Homo sapiens: one gene and its partners. The protein of the gene in region 1 interacts with the protein of each later gene in a biochemical or structural test. Each region holds a gene or a part of one and is shown in the gene's direction. Other genes may lie near its edges. The genes, in order: RET, IKBKG, PLCG1, FBXO7, GRB2, NOTCH3 and NEDD4.

What was found.
Region 2: the proteins of RET (region 1) and IKBKG form a complex in vitro, tested with the Homo sapiens proteins (one study listed by BioGRID and IntAct).
Region 3: the proteins of RET (region 1) and PLCG1 form a complex in vitro, tested with the Homo sapiens proteins (one study listed by BioGRID).
Region 4: of the proteins of RET (region 1) and FBXO7, one has a biochemical effect on the other in vitro, tested with the Homo sapiens proteins (one large-scale study listed by BioGRID).
Region 5: the proteins of RET (region 1) and GRB2 form a complex in vitro, tested with the Homo sapiens proteins (3 studies listed by BioGRID).
Region 6: the proteins of RET (region 1) and NOTCH3 form a complex in vitro, tested with the Homo sapiens proteins (one study listed by BioGRID).
Region 7: the proteins of RET (region 1) and NEDD4 form a complex in vitro, tested with the Homo sapiens proteins (one study listed by BioGRID).

The regions. Positions count from the first base shown.
Region 1 is NC_000010.11:43,125,569-43,129,068, forward strand, and holds part of RET (proto-oncogene tyrosine-protein kinase receptor Ret isoform a precursor), read left to right. Parts: intron 1-1,006; coding exon 1,007-1,154; coding exon of another isoform or gene 1,155-1,186; exon of another isoform or gene 1,187-2,543; coding exon 2,544-2,701; 3' UTR 2,702-3,500. UniProt on the Homo sapiens protein: Receptor tyrosine-protein kinase involved in numerous cellular mechanisms including cell proliferation, neuronal navigation, cell migration, and cell differentiation in response to glia cell line-derived growth family factors (GDNF, NRTN, ARTN, PSPN and GDF15).
Region 2 is NC_000023.11:154,554,120-154,557,619, forward strand, and holds part of IKBKG (NF-kappa-B essential modulator), read left to right. Parts: intron 1-2,045; coding exon 2,046-2,257; intron 2,258-3,500. UniProt on the Homo sapiens protein: Regulatory subunit of the IKK core complex which phosphorylates inhibitors of NF-kappa-B thus leading to the dissociation of the inhibitor/NF-kappa-B complex and ultimately the degradation of the inhibitor.
Region 3 is NC_000020.11:41,172,043-41,175,542, forward strand, and holds part of PLCG1 (1-phosphatidylinositol 4,5-bisphosphate phosphodiesterase gamma-1), read left to right. Parts: intron 1-150; coding exon 151-247; intron 248-378; coding exon 379-603; intron 604-686; coding exon 687-835; intron 836-1,377; coding exon 1,378-1,492; coding exon of another isoform or gene 1,493-1,609; coding exon 1,610-1,771; intron 1,772-1,880; coding exon 1,881-1,969; intron 1,970-2,081; coding exon 2,082-2,269; intron 2,270-2,424; coding exon 2,425-2,467; 3' UTR 2,468-3,500. UniProt on the Homo sapiens protein: Mediates the production of the second messenger molecules diacylglycerol (DAG) and inositol 1,4,5-trisphosphate (IP3). Plays an important role in the regulation of intracellular signaling cascades.
Region 4 is NC_000022.11:32,488,311-32,491,810, forward strand, and holds part of FBXO7 (F-box only protein 7), read left to right. Parts: intron 1-2,775; coding exon 2,776-2,871; intron 2,872-3,500. UniProt on the Homo sapiens protein: Substrate recognition component of a SCF (SKP1-CUL1-F-box protein) E3 ubiquitin-protein ligase complex which mediates the ubiquitination and subsequent proteasomal degradation of target proteins and plays a role in several biological processes such as cell cycle, cell proliferation, or maintenance of chromosome stability.
Region 5 is NC_000017.11:75,336,179-75,339,678, reverse strand, and holds part of GRB2 (growth factor receptor-bound protein 2), read left to right. Parts: intron 1-466; exon of another isoform or gene 467-879; intron 880-3,500. UniProt on the Homo sapiens protein: Non-enzymatic adapter protein that plays a pivotal role in precisely regulated signaling cascades from cell surface receptors to cellular responses, including signaling transduction and gene expression.
Region 6 is NC_000019.10:15,160,767-15,162,995, reverse strand, and holds part of NOTCH3 (neurogenic locus notch homolog protein 3 precursor), read left to right. Parts: intron 1-433; coding exon 434-531; intron 532-1,281; coding exon 1,282-2,229. UniProt on the Homo sapiens protein: Functions as a receptor for membrane-bound ligands Jagged1, Jagged2 and Delta1 to regulate cell-fate determination.
Region 7 is NC_000015.10:55,840,113-55,843,612, reverse strand, and holds part of NEDD4 (E3 ubiquitin-protein ligase NEDD4), read left to right. Parts: intron 1-1,449; coding exon 1,450-1,679; intron 1,680-2,885; coding exon 2,886-3,007; intron 3,008-3,095; coding exon 3,096-3,166; intron 3,167-3,500. UniProt on the Homo sapiens protein: E3 ubiquitin-protein ligase which accepts ubiquitin from an E2 ubiquitin-conjugating enzyme in the form of a thioester and then directly transfers the ubiquitin to targeted substrates. Specifically ubiquitinates 'Lys-63' in target proteins.

The DNA.
Region 1 (3,500 bases):
GGGGTGGCCAGAGTCAGCCTGTGTGCCTGGAAGTACAGTTTGTGAGGTCTACACATTTTCAACCAATATTCATCAGGCAGCTGCTAGGACCCATACTATGTCTCAGAGGCTGGGAATGCAGATAAACAAGACCAGCACAGCCCTGCCCTCACGGGGTTTACACACAGGCCTTGTCTTAACATTGGCACATTTACTGAGTTGTCACTTCTTCCGACTTGGATAGCGGGATGCAGGACCTAGGACCCCATAGGAAAACTTCACATCACTGTCTCGCTTGGATGAAAACTTCAAGTCCTGAGAATGCAGCGTTGTTCAAAACAGAAGCGATCACTGGTGCTGGCCTTCCTAGAACAGTGCTGAGAAACAGCCGGGAAAACGCTGGGCCCCTCTGTGCACATTCAAGCTGGGCATTGAAAGGAGCAGACGCCAGTGGCCCCTCGTGCTGGGGAGCCCGTGCCTGTAGCAGGGTCCTGTGCACCCTGACAGCGCTGTCAGATTTCAGAACTCAGCCCTGACGTGACGTTCTAGATGGCAGGGGTCCTTGGGGAAAGCTGGAAAACATCCTGCAGGCTGGGGCTGCGTCCTGGCATGTGGCTGCAGTGGGCTCCCCCAGAGCCCAAGGGTTTGTCAGCGGGCTGGTTCCGTGCTGCCCATCTCCGGGTTGGGCCAGGGGCAGCTAGATGAGGCGTCCCCCAAGGCTGCCCTCCAGGCCCTGGAGATAAGACGCTGAGGGAGCACATTTCTTTCCCCAGGGAGGTGACTTTCCAGGGGAAGAGACAGAATAGACAACACCCAGGGGAGTGATGGGGACCTCAGAGCAGGACCAGGCCAGCCAGGAGTCCTGGGAGCTCTATGCAGCCTGGCCCTGGTCTCTTGGAGAGGTCAGGAGATTGGTGCGAGGTGGAGACACAGCCAGAGCCTCTGCCCTGAGGATGGCTTGTTGTATACTGAGTTGTATCTAGTTGTGGCACATGGCTTGGAGTGACCGGCCATCTCTGTCTTCCAGGACTACTTGGACCTTGCGGCGTCCACTCCATCTGACTCCCTGATTTATGACGACGGCCTCTCAGAGGAGGAGACACCGCTGGTGGACTGTAATAATGCCCCCCTCCCTCGAGCCCTCCCTTCCACATGGATTGAAAACAAACTCTATGGTAGAATTTCCCATGCATTTACTAGATTCTAGCACCGCTGTCCCCTTTGCACTATCCTTCCTCTCTGTGATGCTTTTTAAAAATGTTTCTGGTCTGAACAAAACCAAAGTCTGCTCTGAACCTTTTTATTTGTAAATGTCTGACTTTGCATCCAGTTTACATTTAGGCATTATTGCAACTATGTTTTTCTAAAAGGATGTGAAAATAAGTGTAATTACCACATTGCCCAGCAACTTAGGATGGTAGAGGAAAAAACAGATCAGGGCGGAACTCTCAGGGGAGACCAAGAACAGGTTGAATAAGGCGCTTCTGGGGTGGGAATCAAGTCATAGTACTTCTACTTTAACTAAGTGGATAAATATACAAATCTGGGGAGGTATTCAGTTGAGAAAGGAGCCACCAGCACCACTCAGCCTGCACTGGGAGCACAGCCAGGTTCCCCCAGACCCCTCCTGGGCAGGCAGGTGCCTCTCAGAGGCCACCCGGCACTGGCGAGCAGCCACTGGCCAAGCCTCAGCCCCAGTCCCAGCCACATGTCCTCCATCAGGGGTAGCGAGGTTGCAGGAGCTGGCTGGCCCTGGGAGGACGCACCCCCACTGCTGTTTTCACATCCTTTCCCTTACCCACCTTCAGGACGGTTGTCACTTATGAAGTCAGTGCTAAAGCTGGAGCAGTTGCTTTTTGAAAGAACATGGTCTGTGGTGCTGTGGTCTTACAATGGACAGTAAATATGGTTCTTGCCAAAACTCCTTCTTTTGTCTTTGATTAAATACTAGAAATTTTTTCTGTTTCCTAACTTCATCATTGATTGTTTGAAATCTTGGAGTTTCAAGCATTTTTTTCAAGCTGAGACGGTTCCTTTTGCATGCCTCCTGACTCACTGACTCCTCACTGGCTTTGTGTCTAGTGCCACACTCCATTTGTGCTGACGATGCTATGAGGCTGGCCCGTGTGCACCCTCGATTTGGAAGGTCCTCTTCTCCGTTGTAGGCTCAGACAACAGACGAGTGCCTCCTTTACGTTAGAGAATGTTTTATAGAACGTTTCCGCTGCAGTAAGCCATTGAGTGCAGCAGTGTGCTGTTGCCCTACACTGCCTTAGAAAAAGAGTTAAGCAGTTCGACAAATATACATCAGATTAGAGAGTCTCAAGTTCATAAAAGTCAAAATTGGTAGTGTCTGTTAAGTTACATTTACCAAGAGAGCACATGATATTTCCCCTAACTATAACAGTGTTTTTGGAAACCTGGAACACAAAACCATTAATATAATTGGCACAGAAACCACGAGTTTGGTTTGAACATCAAAGGGAGTTTTGCCAAGGCCTTACTGTCTGCACTTGAAGTTTTGGTTCTTCAGTGCAGAACAAATGATCTGTTTTCATTTTTAGGCATGTCAGACCCGAACTGGCCTGGAGAGAGTCCTGTACCACTCACGAGAGCTGATGGCACTAACACTGGGTTTCCAAGATATCCAAATGATAGTGTATATGCTAACTGGATGCTTTCACCCTCAGCGGCAAAATTAATGGACACGTTTGATAGTTAACATTTCTTTGTGAAAGGTAATGGACTCACAAGGGGAAGAAACATGCTGAGAATGGAAAGTCTACCGGCCCTTTCTTTGTGAACGTCACATTGGCCGAGCCGTGTTCAGTTCCCAGGTGGCAGACTCGTTTTTGGTAGTTTGTTTTAACTTCCAAGGTGGTTTTACTTCTGATAGCCGGTGATTTTCCCTCCTAGCAGACATGCCACACCGGGTAAGAGCTCTGAGTCTTAGTGGTTAAGCATTCCTTTCTCTTCAGTGCCCAGCAGCACCCAGTGTTGGTCTGTGTCCATCAGTGACCACCAACATTCTGTGTTCACATGTGTGGGTCCAACACTTACTACCTGGTGTATGAAATTGGACCTGAACTGTTGGATTTTTCTAGTTGCCGCCAAACAAGGCAAAAAAATTTAAACATGAAGCACACACACAAAAAAGGCAGTAGGAAAAATGCTGGCCCTGATGACCTGTCCTTATTCAGAATGAGAGACTGCGGGGGGGGCCTGGGGGTAGTGTCAATGCCCCTCCAGGGCTGGAGGGGAAGAGGGGCCCCGAGGATGGGCCTGGGCTCAGCATTCGAGATCTTGAGAATGATTTTTTTTAAATCATGCAACCTTTCCTTAGGAAGACATTTGGTTTTCATCATGATTAAGATGATTCCTAGATTTAGCACAATGGAGAGATTCCATGCCATCTTTACTATGTGGATGGTGGTATCAGGGAAGAGGGCTCACAAGACACATTTGTCCCCCGGGCCCACCACATCATCCTCACGTGTTCGGTACTGAGCAGCCACTACCCC
Region 2 (3,500 bases), on another chromosome or scaffold:
CCCCTAAGGGCCCAGAAGATGTCTGTCCCCCAAGATGTACATGCTTATGTCCATGGAGGAGGCTGTACTTAGAATGTTGAGGGAGAGATTCACGAAGAAGTTGCATGTCTCTAGTGTGTGACTCCACTAGTGTGAGACATGTCCAGAAGTGGCCAATCTGCAGAGGCAGATGCAGATGAGGAGGGTGCTGGGGGAGCGACTGCTTATGGGGTCCCGGAACTGTTCTGGAATTAGATAGTGCGGATGGTTGCACAACCTGATGGATACACCGAAAACTGCTGAATTAGTTAAAATAGTGAATTTGATGTCATGTGAATTTTACCTCAGTTCAGAACATTTTTTAAAAGACAAGTTGCCAGCCAGGTGCAGTGGCTCATGCCTGTAATCCGAGCACTTTGGGAGGCCCAGGCGGGGGGATCACCTGAGGTCAGGAGTTTGAGACCAGCTTGGCCAACATGGTGAAACCCCATCTCTACTACAAAAATTAGCTACAGACGTGGTGGCGGGCACCTATAATCCCAGCTACTTGGGAGGCTGAGGCAGGGAGAATTGCTTGAACCCAGGAGGTGGAGGTTGCAGTGAGCTGAGATCGCGCCACTGCACTCCAGCCTGGGCGACAGAGCGAGAGTCTGTCTCAAAAAAAAAGACAAGTTGCAGATGAGCTGAGCTTTGGGCAGAGCAAGCGGGATTCTGATGGGGGGTGGATGTTGCGCTCGTCAGCAGGCAATAGTTAGTTGGTTGAGGGTTTTGATCACGGGGTAGCTACTGCCTGCCCCATTTTATCCAGCTCTGTAGTTGCTATAGAGTTGCTAGAACCTTGGCACATCACTTATCAGTTTTGTCACCTCAGATGGCTTCTTCACTACTTGGGGTGTCTCCTGGGTGTGGGGCTCTCCTTCCTGTGGCCTCTGCTGACTGCCTGGCACTGGCACACATGCTCTGGTGAGGGGAGGACCAGCGGTTTTTCCCGTTTGTTTTCTGCTTCCTCGTTTAACCCTCCTCGTCTTGTAAGATGAATGTTCTTGTCTCTGTTCACTATGCAGATGAGGACTTTGAGGCTCAGAGACGCCACTAACTTGCCTGGTCCAAGCCTTTTGGGCCTCTCAGGCTGCAGCCAGCAATGCTGCAGTGAAGTTTGCCTGGGAGGCTGACCCTAGGAGTCTGCAGGCGTGTTAGGACCCCCGATCTAGAAGACAGCAGAGATGTAGGCCAGGGAGGACCAATACCGAGCATCTGAGGGCAGGCACACCTCAGACTGACCAGAATACAAATGAATTCGAGTCACTTACAAACAAAGTGGCATAAGGCCAGGCACAGTGGCCCATGCCTATAATCCCAGCACTTTCGGAGGCCGAGGTGGGAGGATTGCTTGAGGCCAACGATGTGAGACCAGCCTGGGCAACATAGCAAGACCTTGTCTCTACAAAAATAAAAATTCAAAAAAGTGGCATTTAACACATACTTTTTTTCTTTTTTTTGAGACAGAGTTTTGCTCTGTCCCCCAGGCTGGAGTGCAATGGTGTGATCTCGGCTCACTGCAACCTCCACCTCCCAGGTTCAAGTGCTTCTCCTGCCTTAGCCTCCCAAGTAGCTGGGATTACAGGCGTGTGCCACCACACCGGGCTAATTTTTGTATTTTTATTAGAGACGGGGTTTCACCATGTTGGCCAAGCTGGTCTGGAGCTCCTGACCTCAGGTGATCCACCCACCTTGGCCTCCCAAAGTGCTGGGATTACAGGCATGAGCCACAGTGCCTGGCCAACACGTACTTTTAAGTGAAGCTGATGTGTTTGGTGTTATTTTCTTGCAGAAAGTGAGGGGCATTAGTGTAAAGGATTTTGGAAGTGTTTAAAGAAACAAAAGGGAGTGTTGAGACGCCATCCACCCCTGAGAGAAGCTGCGTGGTATTATGGCGGGTGGGGGCACCAGGATGGGTGGCCCCACTTCTGGCCTCTGACTTCCTGAGCCTCAGGCCCATGTGGGCCCAGGCAGGGCCCGGCAGGCCGGGCTGCCCAGCTCCCCTCCACTGTCCCCTCTGCCACCAGATGCCATCCGGCAGAGCAACCAGATTCTGCGGGAGCGCTGCGAGGAGCTTCTGCATTTCCAAGCCAGCCAGAGGGAGGAGAAGGAGTTCCTCATGTGCAAGTTCCAGGAGGCCAGGAAACTGGTGGAGAGACTCGGCCTGGAGAAGCTCGATCTGAAGAGGCAGAAGGAGCAGGCTCTGCGGGAGGTGGAGCACCTGAAGAGATGCCAGCAGGTAGTCGGGGCAGGGCCAGGTTCTGAAAACCCGCGGTGACGCCAGTGTTCCACAAGGGAACCCGTGGTCGGGGTCCCCCAAAGCACCCTGGGGCTCAGTGCTGTGCCGGGAGGGCTCGGAACTCAGAAAAGCCGTCACACTCCCAGTTCCGGTTTATTACAAGGAAAGGACACAGGTTACGGTGAGCGAAGGCTCAGGGCGCACAGGGCGGGCTCCAGGAGAGACCAGGCGTGAGCTTCAGCGGCTCCTCGCCCAGGGGAGTTGTGCAGACGGCACCTGTTTCTTTCGGCAACAGTGTGGGACAGCGAGCACGGAGTCACAACCGGGAAGCTCACCCCAGCCGTGGCGGCCGGGGTTTTCACGGGGGGTGGGCCGCGTGGGCACCGAGCGCCTGCGTGGCCAACCCTGGTCACTCGGCTGTAGCCACCAGAGGTCCAGCTGTGTGGCCCAAGGCTCCCCCCATAAATCGTGTCATTAGCACAGACCGCCTGGTTTCAGGGTCTTTGTGTGTGGGCTTGGCTGATCGCAGGATCCTGGCGATGGTAGTCAGGAAGGGGCCGTGCTCCCTTTGAGGGGCAAGGTGGAGAGAAGTGCTGGAGAGGAGACTTGCTGGCGGGTACCTGGCACTTGCCACAGCCAGGCTCCACTCCCCTGGGGAAAGGCGTGGATGGTGGGCTGTGCACGCCGCTCCACTCAGGGCTTAGAGCGCCTGGCTTAAGGCGTTGATTTCCTGTGTGGGAAGTGGATGAGTTTTCTACAGCTGCCGTGACCAAGCACCACAGACTGCGGGGCCGAAGCCACAGAAACGCGTGGCCTCCCGCTTCTGGAGGCCTGGAGGCTGAGCTAGCGGTGGTGTCGGCAGGGTGGGCTCCCCGCCAGGGCCGCGAGGGAGCTGCCTTCCAGGCCTCTCCACGGCGCCGGGGGCCGCCGGCTGCACCTCTCCAGCCTCCATCTCCGTCATCCTGTGGCCTTGTCCCCGCGGGCCTCTGTGCCTGTCCTCCTCTTTTGACAAGAACACCGGAGATACACAAAGGTACACAAAAGCGGGCCTTTGTTCAAGCTGGCAAAAGAGATCTTCTTCAGAAACCCCTGCTTGCGGGGGAGAGAGCTGAGCTCCGTTCCCGCCCCAGCAGAGGCGGCCTGGCCTTGCGAAGGGAGAAGGAGGGAGTCGGGAGGGGGCGAGTGCAGGCTCAGGTGAAAGATGACGGGGCAGCCAGCGTCCTTGCCGCGAGGCCAGCCGTGT
Region 3 (3,500 bases), on another chromosome or scaffold:
ACTGTTGGGTGTGGTGTCTGGAAGGTACAGGGGAAGGTGGGAGAGGGGCCCAGAGCACCTGCAGTGTGGGCATGCCCAAGGTTGGCAGGGGCTTCCTTCTCCTGGGCAGGGCTGTAGCCTGGGGCTACAGGGCCTTGTGTGTGTCACCAGCTCACTGAAGGGAAGATAATGGAACGGAGGAAGAAGATTGCCCTGGAGCTCTCTGAACTTGTCGTCTACTGCCGGCCTGTTCCCTTTGATGAAGAGAGTAAGGGCCAGGGCCCAGGCGGGGTGTGCATGTGCCTGGAGGGCCTGGTGGGTGCAAAAAGAGTATTTAGGTATCCCCCCAACACTTCCTGGGTGGGCGGGCTCTGTAAGTGTTTTCCCTGTTTGGCCCAGAGATTGGCACAGAACGTGCTTGCTACCGGGACATGTCATCCTTCCCGGAAACCAAGGCTGAGAAATACGTGAACAAGGCCAAAGGCAAGAAGTTCCTTCAGTACAATCGACTGCAGCTCTCCCGCATCTACCCCAAGGGCCAGCGACTGGATTCCTCCAACTACGATCCTTTGCCCATGTGGATCTGTGGCAGTCAGCTTGTGGCCCTCAACTTCCAGACCCCTGGTGAGGAAGTCCCCTGTGAGGAGGGTGAGGAGGGGCACTGTGGGGCAGCTGGACTGGAATACACCATAATCTGCCTCTTCCAGACAAGCCTATGCAGATGAACCAGGCCCTCTTCATGACGGGCAGGCACTGTGGCTACGTGCTGCAGCCAAGCACCATGCGGGATGAGGCCTTCGACCCCTTTGACAAGAGCAGCCTCCGCGGGCTGGAGCCATGTGCCATCTCTATTGAGGTGGGTGCTGCTCATCTGGGCTTCAGGGTAGGAAAGGGGCTGCTTGCCGTTGGAGTCTGTTTATGTTGAGTTCTCCAAAAGTAGGTATTTTCAGGCATCAAGGTGGTCAGGGTGGGTGGGGCCTGAGCTGAGTCTTTGAAGGGGTGAAGATAGCATGCAGTCACTGTATGCATCTAGGACGTGCAGAGCCATGGTGTGACTTGTTCTGATGACTTGTTTTGTTCTGATGAGATCTTTTTTTTCCCTAAGGGGAGGTCATTTAAAAGATTTCTGTGTTAAAATAGTAATGGATTTAACATGAAGTAGATTGCAAAACTCACATGGAAATTTTGGCTAAAGCTCAGACTTCAGATAAACTACAGGCAGCAGCTGCTCTGGACAGCTTAGGGTCCCTGATGTCGTGAGGGACTCCATGGGCAGTGTCCCGGGGGCCCAGCAGAGGGCGCGCTGCCTCCACTCCACAGATGCTGACTGAGCCTCCGCAGTGGGGAATTGGAGGGAGCAGGAAGGACAATCCCAGGCCCTTCTTTGTCTGCCTACAGGTGCTGGGGGCCCGACATCTGCCAAAGAATGGCCGAGGCATTGTGTGTCCTTTTGTGGAGATTGAGGTGGCTGGAGCTGAGTATGACAGCACCAAGCAGAAGACAGAGTTTGTGGGTCAGTCTGTCTTCCCAGTCATCCTCCTCATCCTGCTGGGGCACTGCAAGCCTCTCCCCACCAGTCATCCCATCCTCTCCCACGGTGACCTGAAGCCTTTTGTCGTTGCCTTCACAGTGGACAATGGACTCAACCCTGTATGGCCAGCCAAGCCCTTCCACTTCCAGATCAGTAACCCTGAATTTGCCTTTCTGCGCTTCGTGGTGTATGAGGAAGACATGTTTAGTGACCAGAATTTCCTGGCTCAGGCTACTTTCCCAGTAAAAGGCCTGAAGACAGGTGAGGACCATTCCTGGAGGCAGTGCCCCTGCAATCTTGCTGGCAGGGTGGGGCTGGGCCCCTTGCTCTGTCCCTCGTGGGCTGAGGGCCAGGCTTTTCCTCCTCCTAGGATACAGAGCAGTGCCTTTGAAGAACAACTACAGTGAGGACCTGGAGTTGGCCTCCCTGCTGATCAAGATTGACATTTTCCCTGCCAAGGTATCTGCAGCAGGGGTGGGCTGGCCTGGGGTAGGTGGGAGGAGAGCCAGGCAGCAGCCTCTAGAAGTGCAGAGGAGTCATTGACCCTCTTGTGCACCTGGCTTCGTTGAAGCAGGAGAATGGTGACCTCAGTCCCTTCAGTGGTACGTCCCTGCGGGAGCGGGGCTCAGATGCCTCAGGCCAGCTGTTTCATGGCCGAGCCCGGGAAGGCTCCTTTGAATCCCGCTACCAGCAGCCGTTTGAGGACTTCCGCATCTCCCAGGAGCATCTCGCAGACCATTTTGACAGTCGAGAACGAAGGTGAGGAAGATGGAGGGGTGCTAGAGCCAGGAAGGCAGTGGCTAGGTCCTCCTTCTTCAGTGTTTCTTTCTCCTGGGTAGAAAAGTTGTAATATTGTCTGGCATTGGGCTGCAAGGCCCTGCCTGCCAGTAAGGACACTCTTCCCTTCTGTCCAGGGCCCCAAGAAGGACTCGGGTCAATGGAGACAACCGCCTCTAGTTGTACCCCAGCCTCGTTGGAGAGCAGCAGGTGCTGTGCGCCTTGTAGAATGCCGCGAACTGGGTTCTTTGGAAGCAGCCCCCTGTGGCGGCCTTCCGGGTCTCGCAGCCTGAAGCCTGGATTCCAGCAGTGAATGCTAGACAGAAACCAAGCCATTAATGAGATGTTATTACTGTTTTGGGCCTCCATGCCCCAGCTCTGGATGAAGGCAAAAACTGTACTGTGTTTCGCATTAAGCACACACATCTGGCCCTGACTTCTGGAGATGGATCCTTCCATCTTGTGGGGCCAGGACCATGGCCGAAGCCCCTTGGAGAGAGAGGCTGCCTCAGCCAGTGGCACAGGAGACTCCAAGGAGCTACTGACATTCCTAAGAGTGGAGGAGGAGGAGGAGCCTTGCTGGGCCAGGGAAACAAAGTTTACATTGTCCTGTAGCTTTAAAACCACAGCTGGGCAGGGTGAGAAGCTAGATGCCCCTGCAGTTTGGCCCTGGAGCCAGGGCAGAGGAATGTAGGGCCTGCATGGAGAAGGGTTCTGCCCTGCCTGAGGAGGAGGACACAGCACAAGGGCACATTGCCCATGGCTGGGAACATGACCCAGCCTGAAAGATACAGGGGATCATGTTAAAAATAGCAGTATTATTTTTCGTCTCAATGGTATTGTAACTAAGTTATTTACTCCTCCTGCTCCTCACCCCTGTAGGGAAACCTTGGAGAGGAGAGTGGCAGGTGGGCTGCCTGCTGTGTTAAGAGGACTTAGTTTGTGATGTAAGGCACTGTCAGGAATGGGGGGCGGGCCAGGGTGGGAAGAGAAGAAATAGCAGAGCCTATTTTGGTGAGGTTTTTTGTTTTTAAGTCAAAGAAGACTCAGTATGCTTTCCCTGAGGAATGAAAAAGGGATTGAGGAGTTGCCTGACTCCTGGGTGGGTGGGGTACAGGCAGTTAGGTGCTGAATGAAGCTGCCATCCTTGCTGCAGCTTCTAACTGGTAAAAAGATCCAGGGATGGAGATGGGAAGGTTAGAAAGGCAGCCCT
Region 4 (3,500 bases), on another chromosome or scaffold:
CTTTACCAAAGGTTTGCATTCTAGGTAAGGTTTTGCTTAAACTCTATAAAATTATTAATAGATACAAAGAAGACAGGTTTTCCCTTTTATCATTTTTCAGTTAAACCAAACTGTGAGAGGCAGTTATAGGTGGTTGGAGCAGAAGAGATAAGGTGGAGAGGGGAACTGACATTTTTTAAGTGCCTGTTTCATTCTGTACTTGTGCCTGTACATATGTTATTCCATTTAATCTTCTTAGTAAACTTAGGAGGGTTTTAAGAGCCTAGTGGGAATGTTGTGGTACAATGGGAAGATGGCATTTATAGCAGTCCTTTAGGAAAGGCTGGCTAGATTGACATTGTTGCTTTGAAGGCCTAAAGGCTTATTCTTGTTCATTCCTAGGGGAGATCAGCCCTGAGAGATTGACTTATACTAACTAAAACTGACAGGAAAAGGAGATAGCAGAATACATATTTATAACGGTCTCTGATTGGATGTAGAGTCAGAAATTGGGAATTAGCTGAATTGAATTTTTTTTTTGAGACGGAGTCTTGCTCTTTCGCCAGGCTGGAGTGCCGTGGCGCTATCTCGGCTCACTTCAACTTCCACCTCCTGGGTTCAAGCAATTCTTCTGCCTCAGCCTCCTGAGTAGATGGACTACAGGCGCACACCACCACGCCCAGCCAATTTTTTTTTATTTTTAGTAGAGACAGGGTATCACCATATTGGCCAGGCTGGTCTCGAACTCCTGACCTTGTGATCTGCCCGCCTCGGCCTCCCAAAGTGCTGGGATTACAGGCATGAGCCACTGCGCCCGACCGAGTTGAACATTTAATGTCAGACTAGGCCAGAGTTTCTCAATCTTTTTATTCTCACTTCCCAAAGGAGCCGTTGGAGATTTTCCCCTCAATCTCTCTCCTTCATGAAATTTCATACCACAAATATAGTATGTTTTATTTATGTACTGTGACCCTTTGAAGGATCACAAACCAATATAATAGTTTTTCTTTTTAACCCGTCAAGGACCAGTTTTTGCCCCTGTTGGAAATGCATAAACTGGACTGATGAATTGGTATAGATGGCTTTTATCATGAGGATCAGAAAAACTTGAAATTCCTTGGCTACGACACTCCATATTTATCACCGTATAGGGAGGACCTTGTTATGGGGAGTAGAAACACTCTACACTTTACAGCAGTAGAGGTTTTATGCCCATTTTATAGATCAGGAAACAGATCTAGAGGAGGCTCACTTACTTAAGGGTCACAGAGCCAATAAATGGTGAAATACAGGATAGGAATAGATTTGGCTGACTCCCAGCCTTTTAAAACAACTTTTACAGGAATGTAGCTCAGATTGTTATTCTTTATCTGGTTTCTCTTAAATAAAGAAAAATGAAATGGAAGGGAGGAGGAACATTAAATACTGTTAAATTACAAGTTTATGGACTGTTATAATGAAGTATTTTTAATAAAGTCTTATGTTGAGTAGGAATATGCTGCTCATTTGGCAAGTCATTTTAATGAATTTTTACTGTGGTTCATAGCACCTAGTAACTATAACTAGGCACTGTTATTTATCCTTTTATTTATAAGTTCCTAATTAAATAGTTACATACCAGGTTGCTGAAGGAAAACATTCATTTAAAGAAAATCAATTTTCACATTTGAAAAAAGCCCTTGAGCCAAATTGATTTTAAAGAATGATATCTTGACAGCAAATTTCAACTCAAGATTGCAAGTCACACAACAAAGATTTAGACATTAGCTGCATATCTCTTTCCTTCTTCTTATCGATCCTGTTATACTGAGTGTTTTATTTGTTATAGATAGTGAAATACATAAATATGAAATGGGGAAGGAGCAAGCATAAATTGCCTACTGATACCCTAGGCACTGCTCGTGGAGCTTTCAATTATAACAACGCTTATCTGGTGTAGTGGTGGTGTCTCCTTTAAACAGTTGAGCAAAAAGGTGAGGATCAGAGGGGCAGGTTATTTGTCCAAGGCTATACACTTGGTAAATAGCAAAACAAGTGGGAACCTCGGCTGCAGTTTGCTAGTGCGTCCGTACTTTACTATGAGTCACCTGGGGATCTTATTAAAATATAGGTTCTGATTTGGTAGGTCTGTGGGGGCCTGAGATTCAGTAGTTCTAAACAGTTCCAGGTATTGTCAGTTCTGGTGATCTGTCGCCCACATGTTGAGTAGCAGTGTGGTGACTAAAAATGAGTGCTTTTGAGCCACACGGACTTGGGTTTGTGCACTGTTCTGCCACTAACCATGGGGCCTTGGACAGGCTTTCTGTACCTTGACCTGTTTTTAAAATGGAGATAGTAATTAGGAAAGAACTTCTGATGTGAAAGCTTGAAAAACGCTTGACACAGGTGCTGATACATAGTCATCATGCGATAAATGCTATTAATTTACCAGGTTCTAAGCGTTAACAGGAGCAGTTCTCCACTGTATCCTTAGTGCCCAGAACAGATTGATAGCTATCAGGAAATCTTCGTATGTATGAATCTCTCACAAGTCTTTTCTACAACTGCAGCCTATGAGCTAGAGAGGTTGGGCACAGCTCTACTAATTTGATATCATGGAATTTTTAGCTTTTATATCTAAGATTCAGTTTCATCAAGTCTTGCACTGTACTTCTTCCATGAGGGAATTTGGTTCATGCTTATCTTTGTGAATTATTTGTGAATATTTATTCACCATGTTGATTGGGTTTGGCAGAAATAGAGGACAGTTTTTTCACTTGATTTTGGGTTTTGATTTTACTTTAAAAAATATTCTAGGGGAAAATGTAGCCAACATATACAAAGATCTTCAGAAACTCTCTCGCCTCTTTAAAGACCAGCTGGTGTATCCTCTTCTGGCTTTTACCCGACAAGGTAAGAGATGAAATACTGTCACAATTTAAATGACTGTAAAGAATAGTAAGTATACTTAATATTCTTGGTGAGTATGACATCTGACTGCCCTCTTTTCTGCTCCTGGCGAAATGTTCCTCTTCTAAGACTAAGCTTAATATTCCTTAAGTGCTATTTACTTTATCTTTGTATCTCCATGCCATTTTGTACATATTTTTATTGTAGTCTCTTTTCCATGGACTATAATTGTTGATATGATTTCTTTCCACCTAAGGTTGGGAATACCTTGAAGGTAGGGAATATATCTTACTTTTGTATTCTTGTGGTCTAGCATGAGGTCAGGTACATAATAGATGCTCTTTCTCTCTGTGTAGATACATATATATATGTCTATATAGACATATATTTAGATATATATGTCTATATAGACATATATTTAGATATATATGTCTATATAGACATATATAAATAATACATGGTCTGTAATTGGATCTAAGTTTTTTTTTTTAAACCATTTATTGGAGGCTCTTTGCAGGCACTTAGTTGGATATTTCACATGCATTCTTATTTACTGCTAATGACTTCGAAGTAAATTATGTGGTACTTATTTTATAGATGATGAAATCATAATTCAATAAGGTTTATAATTC
Region 5 (3,500 bases), on another chromosome or scaffold:
CTCCAGCCTGGGTAACAAGAGTGAAAACTGAAGCTGTCTCAAAAAAAAAAAAAAAGAAAGAAAGAAAAAGGAAAATGTATATATCATTATAGGTCAGTGAACTTTCACAAACAGAACACACCCAGGTCAGGAAATGTGAGATAAACAGCACCTCTAGAGTTCCTTCATGTCCCCTTCCATTGACTTGTACATATATATATATATTTTGAAGTAAACATAAACTCTTGGGAGGCCGAGGTGGGTGGATCAGGGGGTCAAGTGATCGAGACCATCCTGGCCAACATAGTGAAACCCCCTCTCTACTAAAAATACAAAAAAATAGCCGGGCGTGGTGGCGGGCGCCTGTAGTCCCAGCTACTCAGGAGGCTGAGGCAGGAGAATGGCGTGAACCCAGGAGGCGGAGCTTGCAGTGAGCCGAGATCGTGCCACTGCACTCCAGCCTGGGCAACAGAGCAAGACTCTGTCTCAAAAAAAAAAAAAAAACATAAACTCAGGATTTTATTGTCTTCATAATAAAACAAAAGATGACACTTAGAACTGGATCACTTGGCCCTTTCTCTTCTTATCTCCTCCCAGTTCAAAATGCTTGCATCTTTTAATAGCCAGCATTCTCTTAGATCTGCAGTTGGGCTCAACGCACTCAAGCCTTAGCACAGTCTTCTTTGTGGTTTCAGCCTTTTTCCGGAAAATCGACTTAGTCTGCCCACCATAGCCACTCTGCTTCCTGTCATAACGCCGCTTTCCCTGGGCATACAGAGAATCCTTTCCCTTCTTGTACTGTGTCACTTTGTGGGGTTGATGCTTGCCACACTTCTTAGAGAAAGTCCAGTGAATTTTAGGAAAGTTGACCATTTGCGTGAGTGCTATCAGCACAGAAAGGACTTGTATATTTTTAATTCTTCTGTGTAAAGCTCACCTCATTCCTCATCTCTTAAATTTCTTCCTGATTTGGGCTCTTAACATTATTTTCAGTCTCTTTGCAAAAAAAAACCAAAAAACAAAAAGAACTGTCTTCACTGAAACTTGTCTCTTCCTCCTCTTATAATCTCATCTCTTGATCAATCTGCTTCCGTTAAACCAAAGTGTCGTGTGGCTACAAAGTCATAACTCGAGGGAATATGGGGGTTGGAATAGAAAATGCAGCTGTGGGGTAATAGCTAAAAACATTCCTTGGAGATTTTAAAGCTGAAGGAAACTTTTTGTGAGCTCACCCGTGGATTTGTGCAGAGGGAGTGAATAAGCAAGTGAAGACACAGTGATGGGAGCAGCTTGCTCATGCTCAGGAGTCTGACTAGGCCTTTAAAAATTATTTGTGGCCGGGCACGGTGGCTCATGCCTGTAATCCCAGCACTTTGGGAGGCCAAGGTGGGCAGATCACCTGAGGCCAGGAGTTCGAGACCAGCCTGGCCAACATGGTGAAACCCCGTCTCTATGAAAAATACAAAAATTAGCTGAGCATGGTGACAGGCGCCTGTAATCCTAGCTACTCAGGAGGCCAAGGCAGGCAAATCACCTGAGGTCAGAGGTTCAAGACCAGCCTGACCAATATGGTGAAACCCCATCTCTGCTAAAAATACAAAAATTAGCCAGGCGTGGTGGCGGGTGCCTGTAATCCCAGCTACTCGAGAGGCTGAGGCAGAGAATCACTTGAACCTGGGAGGCGGAGGTTGCAGTGAGCCGAGATTGTGCCACTGCACTCCAGCCTGGGCAACAGAGTGAGACTCTGTCTCAATAAATAATAATAATAATAATAATAATAATAATAATAATAATAATAGTAGTAGTAGTAGTAGTAGTAGTAGTAGTAATAGTAGGCCGGGCGCAGTGGCTCACGCCTATAATCCCAGCACTTTTGGAGGCCGAGGCAGGCGGATCACGAGGTCAGATCAAGACCGTCCTGGCTAACACAGTGAAACCCGTCTCTACTAAAAATATAAAAAATTAGCTGGGCGTGGTTGCAGACGCCTGTAGTCCCAGCTACTCGGGAGGCTGAGGCAGGAGAATGGCCTGAACCTAGGAGGCGGACCTTGCAGTGAGCCGAGATTGTGCCACTGCACTCCAGCCTGGGCGACAGAGCGAGACTCCATCTCAAAAAAAAAAAAAAAATAGTAACAGTAATAAAATAAAAATTATTTGTGAAGGATGTGAGCTTTCACCTAAAGCCACAGCAAATGAAACAATCTTTGTAGGTGCAGCCTCATCCTCAGATGCTTCTGGTCTCTGCCACCTCGAGCTCTTCAACATTCATTTGTGTTCTTTGCTGTTTTGTTTTCTTTTTCTTTCTTTTTTTTTTTTAACCCGACACTTCAGTAGCTGTTTTGTATACTTAAACATTTGAATAAAACTTAATTTTTAAGCATCTAATTACATCACTCCAGTTTCAGGGCTTGTGTGTGCAAGCTCCCAGTGCAGGTGGAGCAGTTGGGTTGAAAGGCCTGGTCTCTGGCTCAGGGTTGCAGCTGCATTGTTCATCCTGTGTTTTGCCTCCGGCAGAACCAAGCTTTTTCTGAAATTCTAGAGTGAAGAGGTTTAGAGGTATGTGCAGCAATACCTGGGCTATCTGATAACGTGATATTCTGGATACTAGAATTTTCCAGATAACCAAAATCGTAACCATTCATGTACTCAAATGTTACATTTTTGGCCAGCATGATGGCTCACGCCTATAATCCCAGCACTTTGAGAGGCCAAGGTAGGTGGATTGCTTGAGGCCAGGAATATGAGACCAGCCTAGCCAACATGGTGAAATCCCGTGTCTGCTAAAAGTACAAAAATCAGCTGGGTATAGTGGCGCATGCCTGTAATCCCAGCTACTTGGGAGGCCGAGGCACTTGAATCACTTGAACCCGGGAAGTGGAGGTTGCAGTGAGCCGAGATCATGCCACTCCACTGCAGCCTGGGTGACAGAGCAACAGAGCAAGACTCTCTCAAAAAAAAAAATTACATTTTTAAAAGCATTAATTCCATATTTTCCTTCTTTCTGGGGGAGAAAAACATACTAAACACCAAGTAATAATTTTTGTTCTGTAGACAGCCATAGTTCTAAGTTGATGTCAAATCTAGGAGTTGCCCTGGAGTTGTGTTTGTTGGGGGAGGGGACACTTTTTAGAGGGATTTGCCTCTGTCTTGGTAAAGGTGACAAGAAGAGAGTGTAGCTCTATGAACTCCTGGCAGGTAAATAGAGTTATCTTTTTCTGCAAAGTTATTGGTCACAAATCAAAAGTGTCCCTTTCTAATGATTACTTTGTTCTGTTTTGATGCACAAATAGGTTACAAGCAGCTCTTTGTCAGTCTGACTCTCTGTCTTCCAAGAACAAGTGTATACAGTAAAAGTAGACACACCTCACCATTTCAGGAGTTAAGACATTTTCAAAAACTCTTCATAGCTGGTATGGGTGCACGCACCTGTAGTCCCAGCTACTCCAGCCTGAGCAACGTAGACTCTGTCTCTGAAATAAAATAATAAATATTGTTTATAAGCCTGTGGGGTTTTTATTATT
Region 6 (2,229 bases), on another chromosome or scaffold:
GCAGGTAGAGGTTGCAGTGAACTGAGATTGTGCCAATGGACTCCAGCCTGGGTGACAGAACAAGACACTACCTCAAAAATAAATAAATGGATAAATAAAAACCACATGTGACTGACTACTGTATTGGATGTCACAACCCTAGGTTCAACTGAAGGAGGTCCACACAGCACCCCCTGTGTATAAACAGTCATGCACATGCACGCACACACACACACACACACAAACACACACACACAGACACAAAGTGCTTCCCCATTGCACAGAGTCATTTTGCAGATTTGCACACACATGGATCCAGACACAAGTACTTGGATATTCACGGCAGGCCTGCCTCCTCTACCCCTAGGCCACATTCTAGACAATTTCTGCCTCCCTGACATGGGGGCCCCAGGACAGGTGCCTGGTCCTGACCTCTCTCCCCTTCATCCTCCAGGGAAATCAGCCTTACACTGGGCTGCGGCTGTGAACAACGTGGAAGCCACTTTGGCCCTGCTCAAAAATGGAGCCAATAAGGACATGCAGGATAGCAAGGTGAGCCCCAGCCCTTGGTCCACTGGGTGTCAGCAGTGGCACAGTGCCATTGCAATCCAGCCTGGGCAACAGAGTGAGACTCTCTCAAAAAACAAAACAAAATAAAACCCCAAACATTGGATTAAAATATAATTTACTTTGGTGACTAAAGTTTTTGGGGGCCCCTTAAATTTTGTGCCTAATGGCTGGGTGTGGTGGTTCATGCCTATAATCCCAGCACTTTGGGAGGTCGAGATGGGTGGATTACTTGAGTTCAGGAGTTTGAGACCAGCCTGGCCAACGTAGTAAAACCCTGTCTCTATTAAAAATACAAAAATTAGCTGGGCGTAGTGGTGCACACCTGTAGTCCCAGCTGCTCGGGAGGCTGAGGCAGGAGAATCGCTTGAACCCGGAAGGCTGAGGTTGCAGTGAACTGAAATGGCGCCACTGCACTCCAGCCTGGGCGACACAGTGAGACTCTGTCAAAAAAAAAAAAAAAAAAAGACAAGAAAAAAAAAGTTATGCCTAAGGTGAGTACCTCGCTTAACTCACCCTAGTCCTGGCCTTGACCTCTGGCACTTAGTAGGTGATGGATGAATGTGGTTTAGAGGAAAGAACTTGTCCAGGCTCCCCCAGCACAGCCGGGATTTAACCCAGGTCTGTCAAGCTCCAGTGTACAAACTCATAGCTCTCGGGCTCCCCCAAGAGGCTGGAAGACTTTGCTACTGTTAGCTGGGGTTTCGCTGACCTCTGTGGGTTCTGGCCCCCCAGGAGGAGACCCCCCTATTCCTGGCCGCCCGCGAGGGCAGCTATGAGGCTGCCAAGCTGCTGTTGGACCACTTTGCCAACCGTGAGATCACCGACCACCTGGACAGGCTGCCGCGGGACGTAGCCCAGGAGAGACTGCACCAGGACATCGTGCGCTTGCTGGATCAACCCAGTGGGCCCCGCAGCCCCCCCGGTCCCCACGGCCTGGGGCCTCTGCTCTGTCCTCCAGGGGCCTTCCTCCCTGGCCTCAAAGCGGCACAGTCGGGGTCCAAGAAGAGCAGGAGGCCCCCCGGGAAGGCGGGGCTGGGGCCGCAGGGGCCCCGGGGGCGGGGCAAGAAGCTGACGCTGGCCTGCCCGGGCCCCCTGGCTGACAGCTCGGTCACGCTGTCGCCCGTGGACTCGCTGGACTCCCCGCGGCCTTTCGGTGGGCCCCCTGCTTCCCCTGGTGGCTTCCCCCTTGAGGGGCCCTATGCAGCTGCCACTGCCACTGCAGTGTCTCTGGCACAGCTTGGTGGCCCAGGCCGGGCGGGTCTAGGGCGCCAGCCCCCTGGAGGATGTGTACTCAGCCTGGGCCTGCTGAACCCTGTGGCTGTGCCCCTCGATTGGGCCCGGCTGCCCCCACCTGCCCCTCCAGGCCCCTCGTTCCTGCTGCCACTGGCGCCGGGACCCCAGCTGCTCAACCCAGGGACCCCCGTCTCCCCGCAGGAGCGGCCCCCGCCTTACCTGGCAGTCCCAGGACATGGCGAGGAGTACCCGGCGGCTGGGGCACACAGCAGCCCCCCAAAGGCCCGCTTCCTGCGGGTTCCCAGTGAGCACCCTTACCTGACCCCATCCCCCGAATCCCCTGAGCACTGGGCCAGCCCCTCACCTCCCTCCCTCTCAGACTGGTCCGAATCCACGCCTAGCCCAGCCACTGCCACTGGGGCCATGGCCACCACCACTGGGGCACTG
Region 7 (3,500 bases), on another chromosome or scaffold:
CTTCTTTTTTGGAGGTGACAGAATATTGATGGCATGTTTTCTCTTACTGGTTTCCCCTGGAAATTTGCCCATGAAGTACTGAGGAATAAAATATTTAGATATATCTTTTGTAAAATTTACAATAAGTTCTGCCTAAAGCATAGTTGTGTACATTTGTCACATAAGCAAAGAACGTACAAAAGATTAGTGAGGCAATGTAGCTCCATTAATTAAGAGCACAGACTCAGGAGCTAAGACTTTCTTAAGTCGTCTTCTTCAGTTTTATGTGTAAAATGAAGACAATAATAGTAGCTTTCGCATAGTGTTGTTATGAGGTTAAACACGTTAACCTGCCATTCCAGGGTACCCATGCCTGGCTGTTTTAGTCCGTTTTCATGCTGCTGATAAAGACATACCTGAGACCAGGCAATTTACAAAAGGAAGAGGTTTATTGGACCTACAGTTCTACATGGCTAGGGAGGCCTCACAATCATGGCAGAAGGCAAGGAGGAGCAAGTCACATCTTACATGGATGGCAGCAGGCAAAGAGAGAGCTTGTGCATAGAAACCATTAGATGTCGTGAGACCCATTCACTATCATGAGAACAGTGCAGGAAAGATCCGCCCCCATAATTCAATCACCTCCCACCAGGTTCTTCCCATGACACATGGAGATTGTGGGAGTTACAATTCAAGATTAGATTTGGGTAGGGACACAGCCAGAATATATCACTGGCACAGTCTGTAAATGTCACCATCTGTTAATGAGTGAAGCAAGATAGACTCCAGGGAGGAAAGTAGAGGTAGGGAAAAGCCTGAACAGACAGGCACAACAGCTAGCAGGCAGTGGCTATCCTACAGGTCACAGAACGGTGTTCATTGGAACTTAATATGAAAAGGACTGTTAACGAAATGCCTTCATGGGGGCATTACCATCACCATCAATTGCTTCTTTAGGCCGGGTGCCATGGCTTATGCCTGTAATCTCAGCACTTTGGGAGGCCAAGGCGGGAGGATTGCTAGAGCTTAGGAGTTTGAGACCAGCCTGGGCAAGATGGCAAGACCTCAAAAACTTAAAAAATTAGTCAGGCATGATGGCATGCGCCTGTGGTCCAGTTACTTAGGAATCGGAAGCAAGAGGATCACTTGAGCCCATGAGGTCGAGGCTGCAGTAAGCCATGTTCACGCCACTGCACTCCAGCCTGGACTACAGAGCTGTCTCCAAAAACAAAAGCTTCTTCAGATGTAAAGAAGTCTATATTACTAAGTGATTAAAGAAAATGCAGAAACTGTCTCATACCATAGAGGAAACCAAGACAATATACCTAGTTGTGTTTTCCCTGAGTATATTACGTAAGGAAAAAGAGACTTGGACACAGGGTGTAGAGGGAATGTTATAACTTTATGAGAGATGGGTTTGTTATTATGTTGAACTGATTTAAACAGTACGTCTCTCCTCTGGATTTTCAGAATGACATTCCAAACAAATTTGAAATGAAACTTCGCCGAGCAACTGTTCTTGAAGACTCTTACCGGAGAATTATGGGTGTCAAGAGAGCAGACTTCCTGAAGGCTCGACTGTGGATTGAGTTTGATGGTGAAAAGGGATTGGATTATGGAGGAGTTGCCAGAGAATGGTTCTTCCTGATCTCAAAGGAAATGTTTAACCCTTATTATGGGTTGTTTGAATATTCTGCTACGTAAGTACCTTTACAATGATTATCGGCAGAAAAAGAAAAATCACTGTTTTAAAAGTAAGAGTCGGCCGGGTGCAGTGGCTCATGCCTGTAATCCCAGCACTTTGGGAGGCCGAGGCGGGCGGATCACAAGGTCAGGATATCGAGACCATCCTAGCTAACACGGTGAAACCCCGTCTCTACTAAAAATACAAAAACTTACCCAGGCGTGGTGGCGGGCGCCTGTAGTCCCAGCTACTCAGGAGGCTGAGGCAGGAGAATGGCGTGAACCCGGAAGGCGGAGCCGAGATCACGCCACTGCACTCCAGCCTGGGCAACAGAGCAAGACTCCTCTAAAAAAAAAAGTTACCATTTTAGCCATTTTAAATATACAATTTAGAGTCATTACATACATTCACATTGTTGTGCTGCCATCCCACTATCCAACTCTAGAACTTTTTCATCTTCCCAAAATGAAACCCTATACCCAGTAAGCACTCGCTCCCCATTCCCTGGCAGCCACCATTCTGCTTTCTGTCCCTATGAATTTGACTCCTCGGGTACCTCACATAAGTGGAATCATTCAATATTTGTCTTTTTGTGACCAGCTCATTTCACTTAACATGATGTCTTCAGGGTTCATCCATGTTGTAGTATGTATCAGAATGTCCTTCCTTTTTAAGGCAGAATAATATTCCATTATTTTTGCATATAATGCTTTGTTTAGGCTGGGCGTGGTGGCTCATGCCTGTAATCCCACCACTTTGGGAGGCCAAGGCTGGTGGATCACAATGCCAGGAGTTCAAGACCAGCCTGACCAACATAGTGAAACCCTGTCTCTACTAAAAATACAAAAATTAACCAGGCATGGTGGCGGGCGCCTGTAATTCCAGCTACTTGGGAGGCTGAGACAGGAGAATCACTTGAACCTGGGAGGCGGAGGTTGCAGTGAGCTGTGACCGTGTCATTGCACTCCAGCCTGGGCGAGAGCAAGACTCCATCTCAAAAACAAACGAACAAACAAAACTTTGTTTATACATTCATCTGCCAAAGGACATTTGGGTTATTTCCACTTTTTGACAGAAATTACTATTTTTAAAACCATTAAATCCAGTGGAGGAATGTGGTTCTAACAGTGGTAAACAACTCTTAAAGGAGGAAGATTATTTGTAATTATTTGTCATATTAAAGTTTTTCAAATGAAGTATTTAAATGGGGTTGTCTTTACAGGGACAATTATACCCTACAGATAAATCCAAACTCTGGATTGTGTAACGAAGATCACCTCTCTTACTTCAAGTTTATTGGTCGGGTAGCTGGAATGGCAGTTTATCATGGCAAACTGTTGGATGGTTAGTATTAAGTATAAACTTTTTACAATATAATTACCTGTTTTCTTTCACTTGGTAATCATCCTAAATGTATTTGGTTTTTTGCAAGGTTTTTTCATCCGCCCATTTTACAAGATGATGCTTCACAAACCAATAACCCTTCATGATATGGAATCTGTGGTATGTCTTTTTCACTTATAGTATAGACGAAGTATAATTTAACAAGCAGCTTGAACATTTTGAAGAATTTGCTTTTAATGACATGGAAATTAATATATTATCATGTTTCAAAATACAAATGAACTTTTTCCTCAACATTTTATTATGAAAATTTTCTAACATATAATAAAGTTGGAAGAATTTTACATTGGACAGTTGTATATCAACTACTCACAATTGCTTTTTTTCTAGATTTACTTTATCACATACCTATCTGTCTATCCATCAGTCTGTCTTAGTTTCTTCATGCATTTCAGAGTAAGTTATAGATAACATTAAACATCCCACTAAATAC